Regions from separate parts of the Homo sapiens genome. Here all the other regions are linked to region 1. Evidence: fine-mapped expression QTL. A gene starts in region 1. Each other region holds a variant in brackets. All regions are shown on one strand. Distances are between the middles of the regions.

What was found. PIP is the estimated chance that this variant, and not a neighbour inherited with it, causes the effect.
Region 2: its variant is fine-mapped to the expression of ZNF418 in whole blood (TOPMed, PIP above 0.99).
Region 3: its variant is fine-mapped to the expression of ZNF418 in cerebral cortex (GTEx, PIP 0.94).

What each region holds. Positions count from the first base shown.
Region 1 is chr19:57,934,323-57,937,087 of GRCh38, reverse strand. ZNF418 (zinc finger protein 418) reads left to right here and starts at 1,686. Exons shown (of 6, transcript NM_133460.3): 1 at 1,686-1,927. RefSeq lists enhancers at 1,719-1,808, 1,401-2,283.
Region 2 is chr19:57,820,187-57,822,951 of GRCh38, reverse strand. No RefSeq gene overlaps it. Among named protein-coding and RNA genes, the nearest start is that of ZNF552, 6.7 kb to the right of the region's middle. RefSeq lists an enhancer at 287-787. The variant A/G (reference allele first, on the strand shown) is at 1,107.
Region 3 is chr19:57,133,054-57,135,818 of GRCh38, reverse strand. ZIM3 (zinc finger imprinted 3) reads left to right here. Exons shown (of 5, transcript NM_052882.1): 5 at 1-1,723. The coding sequence ends at 901. It overlaps LOC124904804 (small nucleolar RNA U3), which reads left to right and starts at 1,559; the gene lies at 1,559-1,770. The variant A/G (reference allele first, on the strand shown) is at 1,357.

The DNA of each region.
Region 1 (2,765 bases):
CAGGCATCTGTTATCCCAGCTACTTGGGAGACTGAGGCAGGAGAATCGCTTGAACCCGGGAGGTGGAGGTTGCAGTGAGCCAAGATGGCGCCACTGCACTCCAGTCTGGGACAGAACGAGACTTTGTCTCAAAAAAAAAAAAAAAAAAAAAGAAAGAAAAACTTCTGTGAAGTGTAAATTTTTTTCACCATCCACTCATGTTTCAATTGACCTATTTCTGTCATCGCAGTTATTAGATAGTCGTTGGTAATAAGTTTCTGTAACTGGCATTTCACCTGTTTTTCTGGTATCATATTAGTTCCTCATGCAGAACACTCCCCGCTGTCACAAGAGAAACAAATGATAATCACTTCCCAGGAAAGATAACAAGCTCGATAATTTAACATACGCCTAGTGTCTCCAGGTGGAGATTATCACCACCATTACCAATACCAAGCTGAGATTTCTCTTTCATTGTTCTTTACCTGAGACTGACTTCAAGTTCCTAAAATGAGTTGAAAATATAAGTTAGAATACCAAGTAAGGGATATTACATGAATAAATGTTTTGCTGAATGAATTGGACACAATAATTGACTATATAAGCAGGAGAGTTGTTTTTCCATGGGAACGACTGATTGACCTTTGTACTCTTTCTTTAGCCTCTCCTCTATCTTCCTTGGCATGGTCCTATCTGGATTAGTTCTCTTTTGTCCCTGGCAGACTGAAAAACCAACTCTAATGCCTCAGAGTGAGGCAGGAGAATAGGGAATTAGGGTAACCAAGAATGAAGGCATAAGCAAAAGAACAGCAGGTGCAGCTAGTTCTAGGCAAGATGAGGCAGCACACAGGCCACGTCCTCACTCCTGTGGTAACAAGACAGAAGTCTCCACTTCAGCCTCTGATTGGTTGTGCACCAGTCCTTCATAGGATTGGAGGCCTTTAAAGAACTCTTGGGGTATTATAAAATTCTAGCTTATTCATGGCAAAAACCGCAATTACTTTTGCACCAACCTAATAAAACCCTAAAAAACATTGTAATCGGGGTTCTTGAGCCGCTTGGTCGCCTGCTCCCACACCTACATTCCACTTCTGTGGAGTGTACTTTCCCCTCAATAAATCTGCGCTTTCATTGGTCCGTTCTTTCGTTGCTTTTTTTGTGTGTTTTGTTCACTTCTTTGTTCAATGCGCCAACAACTGGACAACTCACAGCCAAGACATTCTATCCGGTAACAAGAGTGCATTCATGTGAATTATAACAGAGTAATGTTTATCAGCCTCTGCTTCCAGTGCAAGCATTCTGTGTCTAAACGATTGTATAAAGTGATACACGAATTTGGATTTGTAGCCTTTGGGGGCCTTCACAGTATTTTTAGCGCCTGGGAGCTTGAATTTACAGAAATGTGAATTAATATTTTTGCAAACACTTAGGTGGTCAGTTACAAACAGGGATTCCCCAGGAATCTCAATATGGCCTCTAAGGAGGGGCGAGACCATCCTCTGCCCTAAAAGGGTACGCGCTTTAATGAACCCCCTGAGGTAGGGCTGGGACTTCCCTGCAGAAGCGCCTTTGGGAAGCGGCAGCTTTACTACCTTGGAACCTGGGGAACTACATTACCCAGAAAGCTCTACATTGAATGACAGCGCAACAGAACCAGTAAGGGCTCAGAATAAAGGCGTTTCTGTGTGCGCACGTAACGTAGTGGCGGGATTCTCAGCGTTCTCTGGTAGCGACCATTTTGGTTAATGTTGGGTGTGTTTCTGCGGTTTGTGAGGTGAGAGGCGCTGGAGCTATGGGTCCGAACCGCGGTGTCTGAACCCAGAAGGTGAAGAGTCCTTCTTGCTGCACAGAGGCAGATCTTAGGCCCCGTAACGGCGCCCGCCGCTCCCGGCAGTGCTTTCCCCGCGTACTCGGGATGGCGGCGGCCGCGCTGAGGCTCCCGGCTCAGGTAATTGTGCCTTCCCTGCCCTCAGGTCACCTCATCCTAACCCGAATCCTGAAGCAGCGAGAGAGCGGCGACTGTTCACAGGTCTGCAGCCCGGACCCGGCGTCGGGACACTGAGGCGTTCGCGGGAGAGGTCCTTGTTTCTGACACCTGTGGGATGCGGTGGGGAGAGCGACAGGCACAGGGACCGGCGCGGGCTATGGCCTGGAGGACAGACCCGGGAGGATGGAACCTGGGGTCCACAGGCGCCTGTAGGGAACAACGTGTGAGGCGAAGCTTCTCCTGGAAGAGCAGGCTGGGGGCTGTGTATTCGCTGTGAAGACGCTAGAAGCCATGGAGAGTTTCGAAGAAAGGAGGGATGCGATCCAAGTCCAGGCTTTTAAGGTTTCCCAAAGGCCAAAGGAAGAACATAGTAGAGGAGATGAGGACCTTAGGGTTCTGGGAGGTTGACTCCTTTGTTGATAGATCACATAGGTGGTAGAGATGACATTTTGCACTGAGACACGCAGGTCAACCAGTCTGAGGTCACCTGGCTCCAGCGATAAGAAAAGGTTCAAGGAGACCTGAGCTTATCAGATCCCCTTTGTAACGTCTGCTTTCCCCTCAGACACTCCTGGCTACAAAAGCACGTAAAGAACCCACTGAGGGGGTCGGGCAAGGTGGCTCCCACCTGTAATCCCAGCACTTTGGGAGGCCGAGGCGGGCGGATCACCTGAGGTCGGGAGTTCGAGACCAGCCTGACCAACATGGAGAAACCCCGTCTCTAACAAAAATACAAAATTAGCCAGGCGTGGTGATGCCGCATGACTGTAATCCCAGCTACTCAGAGGCTAAGGCAGGA
Region 2 (2,765 bases), 110 kb after region 1:
TCCCCTTCCAAACTCTACTGTCTGATACATCCTGCCATGATGGTCACTCACACCCTCTCAGGTGTTTAGGAAGCCCAATAACATCACTCAGGGACGTAAGTAAGAGATCCACTCCTCAGCCTGTAGTCACACCTTCCTGGCCCCTGAAAAGATTTACCACCAAAATCTGAAGCATGTCCTCCTAAATGGACCCATAACTAACTTACTGTAGTTCGCTCATTAGCTTTCATATATTGGATGTCTCCATTATCAACACCCTCCCAGATATCCCATCCTGTATGTCTAGTTATCCATTTGATGCCACCACTTATTGGTCTCTGATTCTTCATATGGCCAAAACAACCCTCTTGCTATCCACAGTGAATATTGTTGTCAATACCAACTTCATGTCAGCAGATGCAGCGTCCATGGTTACAGCTGCAAAGATCAAAAACCTTGGGCTCATGCCCAATTCCTCTTTCATGCTCTTATCACCCACATTAGAAAACCTAGCTGTCGGCCGGGCACGGTGGCTCACACCTGTAATCCCAGCACTTTGGGAGGCTGAGGCGTGCGGATCACCTGAGGTCGGGAGTTCAAGACCAGCCTAACCAACATGGAGAAACCCCATCTCTACTAAAAATACAAAATTAGCCAGGGTGGTGGTGCATGCCTGTAATCCCAGCTACTGGGGAGGCTGAGGCAGGAGAATCACTTGAACCTGGGTGACGGAAGTTGCGGTGAGCTGAGATCACGCCATTGCACTCCAGCCTGGGCAACAAAAGCAAACTCCGTCTCAAAAAAAAAAAAAAAAGAGAGAGAGAGAAAACCTAGCTGTCTGCCAGGTACGGTGTCTCATGCCTGTAATCCCAGCACTTTGGGAGGCCGAGGCAGGTGAATCACCTGAGGTCAGGAGTTCGAGACCAGCCTGGCCGACATGGTGAAACCTCGTCTCTACTAAAAATACAAAAATTAGCCAAGTGTGGTGGTTCATGCCTGGAATCCCAACTGCTCGGAAGGCTGAGGCAAGAGAATCACTTGAACCCGGGAGGCGGAGGTTCCAGTGAGCAGAGATCATGCCATTGCACTCCAGCCTGGGTGACAAGACCGAAACTGCGTCTCAAAAA[A/G]AAAGAAAGAAAGAAAGAAAGAAAACCTAGCTGTCTTTTTACAAAAAGTGAATCCTGAATCCAGACCCATGTGATTTACCACATATCTGATCCATTAAGCCTCACCTAGATTATGGCAGGAGCCTTATCTCTGACCTTTCTTCCTCTTCCCTCAACCCACAGTCTATGCAACAAGGTCCAACCAGATGAAGCCTGTAGCCAGGTAGAACTGTGGTAATATCACCTCCTGACTTTGATCCGTTTTATCTCTAAGCATTTCACAACCTGGTAGCAAATCCTGGGTTAATCTTACAAGGGTGTTTACATTGGTTGACAGAAATGGGAATACCTCCATATAACCTGTCATGGACTTGGTATCCTGGCTTCAGAGATTCTCCAGGGTCCTCGGATCAAAGGACTGAAAAAAATGGCACTTAAGAGTCCCAGGACACCACAAGCTAGAGAACCTGTAGATGGCGTCAGGACCAATGAGGGGATTGAACACCCTCCACTTTCCTGTGTGGGTTCCCTAAGTGCTTCTGCAGCCAGGAGTGCCTGAGGGGAGAGGCAGACATTACAAACATGTCACGGGATTTGATAAGCTCAGGCCTCCCTGAACCCTTTCTTGTCCCTGGAGCCAGGTGGCACTCAGGCTGGTTGTCTGACCTGCTTGTCTCAGTGCAAAATGTCATCTCTACCACCTATGTGAGCTACAAAAAGGATTCAACCTCCCAAGGCCCCAAAGTCCTCATCCTCTCTCTCTACAATGTTCTTCCTTTGATTGGCCTTTGGGAAATCTTAAAAGCCTGGATTTGGATCATGTCCCTCCTTTCTTCAAAACTCTCCATGGCTTCTAGTGTCCTCATGATGAATGCACAGCCCTCAGCCTGTGTGCTCTTCCAGGAGTAGCTCTGCCTCAAACTTTGTTCCCGACAGGTGCCTGTGGACCCCAGGTTCCATCCTCCCAGCTGCCTCCATCTCCAGACCATCGCCTAGGCCCCTCCCTGTGCCTGTTGCTCTCCCCACCGCATCGCACTGATGTCAAACACAGGTGAAACCGTCTTTGCAAAATTATAACTGAGGAAATTATGACAGTGAAAGAAATCAGACCTAACCGACTCCATCTTGCTTTTAACCTTTAAGCTGTCCTTGTTCATTCCTGGGCACAGGCTGAATTAACTTAGGGAAGGAATTCAGTTCATGGTTTCACTCTGAAACAAAATTGATAACAGCCCTTTCCTGAAAAGACTCCCTTCTTGCCTGGGGACCAGCCTGCCTTTGCAGGACTAACAGTTTAGCTATAAGATTAGAAATTACCGTTTAGGGGTCATGTAGCTTCTGGCTCCAAGAGTCTGAACCTCGCCAAGTTGCTCCTGAAGATAACATAACAATTGTAAAAGCTAAGATCAGTGCTTGAGGTATTTTGGAGATCCTACACTGGATGGATCAGCTGACAACACACAGACCGGTAATCTGGGTCAATCAGTTCTGCCATCCCACCCACAACAGAAAACAGCATGAAAAACTCACTTCAACCCTCTATAAATCCATCTCCAACCTGACCGTTCAGCACTCCCCACTTCCCAAGCCCCTACCCGCCAAATTAACTTTGAAAACTCTGATCCAGAAATGCTCGGGGAGACTGATTTGAATAATAATAAAACTCCTGTCTCCCGAACA
Region 3 (2,765 bases), 800 kb after region 1:
AAAGTTATTCAGTTCAAAGTCACGCCTTCAAAGTCACCTGAGGAGGCATGCCTGTCAAAAACCCTTTGAATGTCATAGCTGTGGAAGAGCATTCGGGGAGAAGTGGAAGCTTGATAAACATCAGAAAACTCACGCAGAGGAAAGGCCCTATAAATGTGAGAACTGTGGAAATGCCTACAAGCAGAAGTCAAATCTCTTTCAACATCAGAAAATGCATACTAAAGAGAAACCCTATCAGTGTAAGACATGTGGAAAAGCCTTTTCCTGGAAATCATCCTGCATTAATCATGAGAAAATTCATAATGCCAAGAAATCCTATCAGTGTAATGAATGTGAGAAATCCTTCAGGCAGAACTCAACCCTCATTCAACATAAAAAAGTTCACACTGGACAAAAACCCTTTCAATGTACGGACTGTGGAAAGGCTTTCATTTACAAGTCAGATCTTGTGAAACACCAGAGAATACACACGGGAGAGAAACCCTATAAATGTAGCATATGTGAGAAGGCCTTTTCCCAGAAATCCAATGTCATCGATCATGAGAAAATTCACACTGGGAAGAGAGCTTATGAGTGTGATCTATGTGGAAATACCTTTATCCAGAAGAAAAACCTCATTCAACATAAAAAAATCCATACTGGGGAAAAGCCCTATGAATGTAACAGATGTGGAAAAGCCTTCTTTCAGAAGTCAAACCTTCATAGCCATCAGAAAACTCATAGCGGAGAGAGGACCTATAGATGTAGTGAATGTGGAAAAACCTTCATCCGGAAATTAAACCTTAGTTTGCATAAAAAAACCCATACTGGACAAAAACCTTATGGATGTTCTGAATGCGGTAAAGCCTTCGCTGACAGGTCATACCTTGTTAGGCACCAGAAAAGAATTCACTCCAGATAGGAGCCCCATGCACTTAAAAAAACATGGGAAGATATGGTTGCCTGGAATTGTCACCCCAGAATTCCATGTTGAAATGGCCTCTAATTTGGAGGCTATTTTTGAAGGTAGCGAGGACTTATTATCACAGTATCCTTTGAAAACCCATTCGGCATACTCACTCAGCAAATGTTTATTAAGTATAAATATTTATTAGATGCCTTTTGTGTACCAGGAACTCTTAAACACTGAAGATGTAGCAATAAACCAAATGTGCTAAAACCCTGATGGAGTTTTATTCCAGTGAATAATGACCAGTGGTATCCATATCTTTAAAAACGTTTAAAAGACTATACTTTTGGCCAGGCGTGGTGGCTCAAATGCCTGTAATCCCAGTACTTTGGGAGGCTGAGGTGGGCGCATCACCTGAGGTCAGGAGTTCGAGACCAGCATGACCAACATGGTGAAACCCTGTCTCT[A/G]CCAAAAATACAAAAATTAGCCAGGCATAGTTGTGGGCACCTGTAATCCCAGCTACCCGGGAGGCTGAGGCAGGAGAATTGCTTGAACCTGGGAGGTAGAGGTTGCAGTGAGCCAATATTGCACCATTGCACTCCTGCCTGGGCAACAAGAGCAAAATTTCATCTCAAAAATAAGATAAAATAAAATAAACAAATAAGACAGCACTTTATACTTTTAGGGATGATTTCTATAATTCATGAGTGGAGAGGTTTCTCTAGAGGTGTAGGGGACTGGAAACCACATCCAGGAAGTACAGCTTTCTCTCCTGAGCATGAAGGTATCTTGGCATTTCTTCACTGCAATTGCCATTTGCCTTTTTTGTTTTTCCTTTTGAGATAGGGTGTCACCTGTTGCCCAGGCTGGAGGGCAGTGGTGTAGTCATAGCTCACTGCAGCCTCAAACTCTTGGGCTCAGGCAATCCTTCCACCTCAGGCTCCCAAAGTGCTTTGATTACAGGCATGAGCCATGGCACTCAGCCTCGTTTCTTTCTTTTCTTTTTCTTTTTTTGGAGACAGAGTTTTACTCTTGTCACCCAGGCTGGAGTACGGTGGTGTGATCTCAGCTCACTGCAATCTCCGCCTCCCTGGTTCAGGTGATTCTCCTGCCTCAGCCTCCAAAGTAGTAGCTAGGACGACAGGCATGCACCACCACGCCTGGCTCATTTTTGTATTTTTAGTAGAGACGGGGTTTCACCATGTTGGCCAAGATGTTCTCGATTTCCTGACCTTGTGATCCGCCTGCCTTGGCCTCCTAAAGTGCTGGGATTACAGGCGTGAGCCGCTGTGACCGGCCTACATTTCTTTTTTCATAGTACTTTCCTTCTTTTCCTCTTAAATGCTAAAAATAATGTATTTTTAAAAACCTCGTACGTATGTTTCTGGTTGCTCTTCTCTTCTTTCCCACACCTACTCTGCCTAATTTTGCCCCATTCCTTATATAATACCAGGCTCTTATCTCTTTTTACCCAAAAAATCCTCTCAATTTCCATTTGTCTACTCACATGGCCATTTAAAAAAATCGTTCTTTACTCCTTGCTGAATTCACAGTCTAACACATCACCCACTGATACTGGGTACATTATAAGCTGTTTAAGGCTTGGCCACCAGGAAATGTTGTACATTTATGAGGATGGGTTTATCGTCTTATTCATATTAATAACATGAGCAACATCTTGCAGTGCTTTTGAATTCACAAAATCACACGGATATTTAGTATACTGCATTTTGCATATAACCCTAATGTTATGCCCTGAAATTCCTGGAAAATGGTAAATAACAGTTGATTGCTGCATAGCAAATTTTACTAGTCACCAGTCATAAACACATGTGGAAGCTAGCCAATGGTATATGTATGGGTTGGGTTATTATTT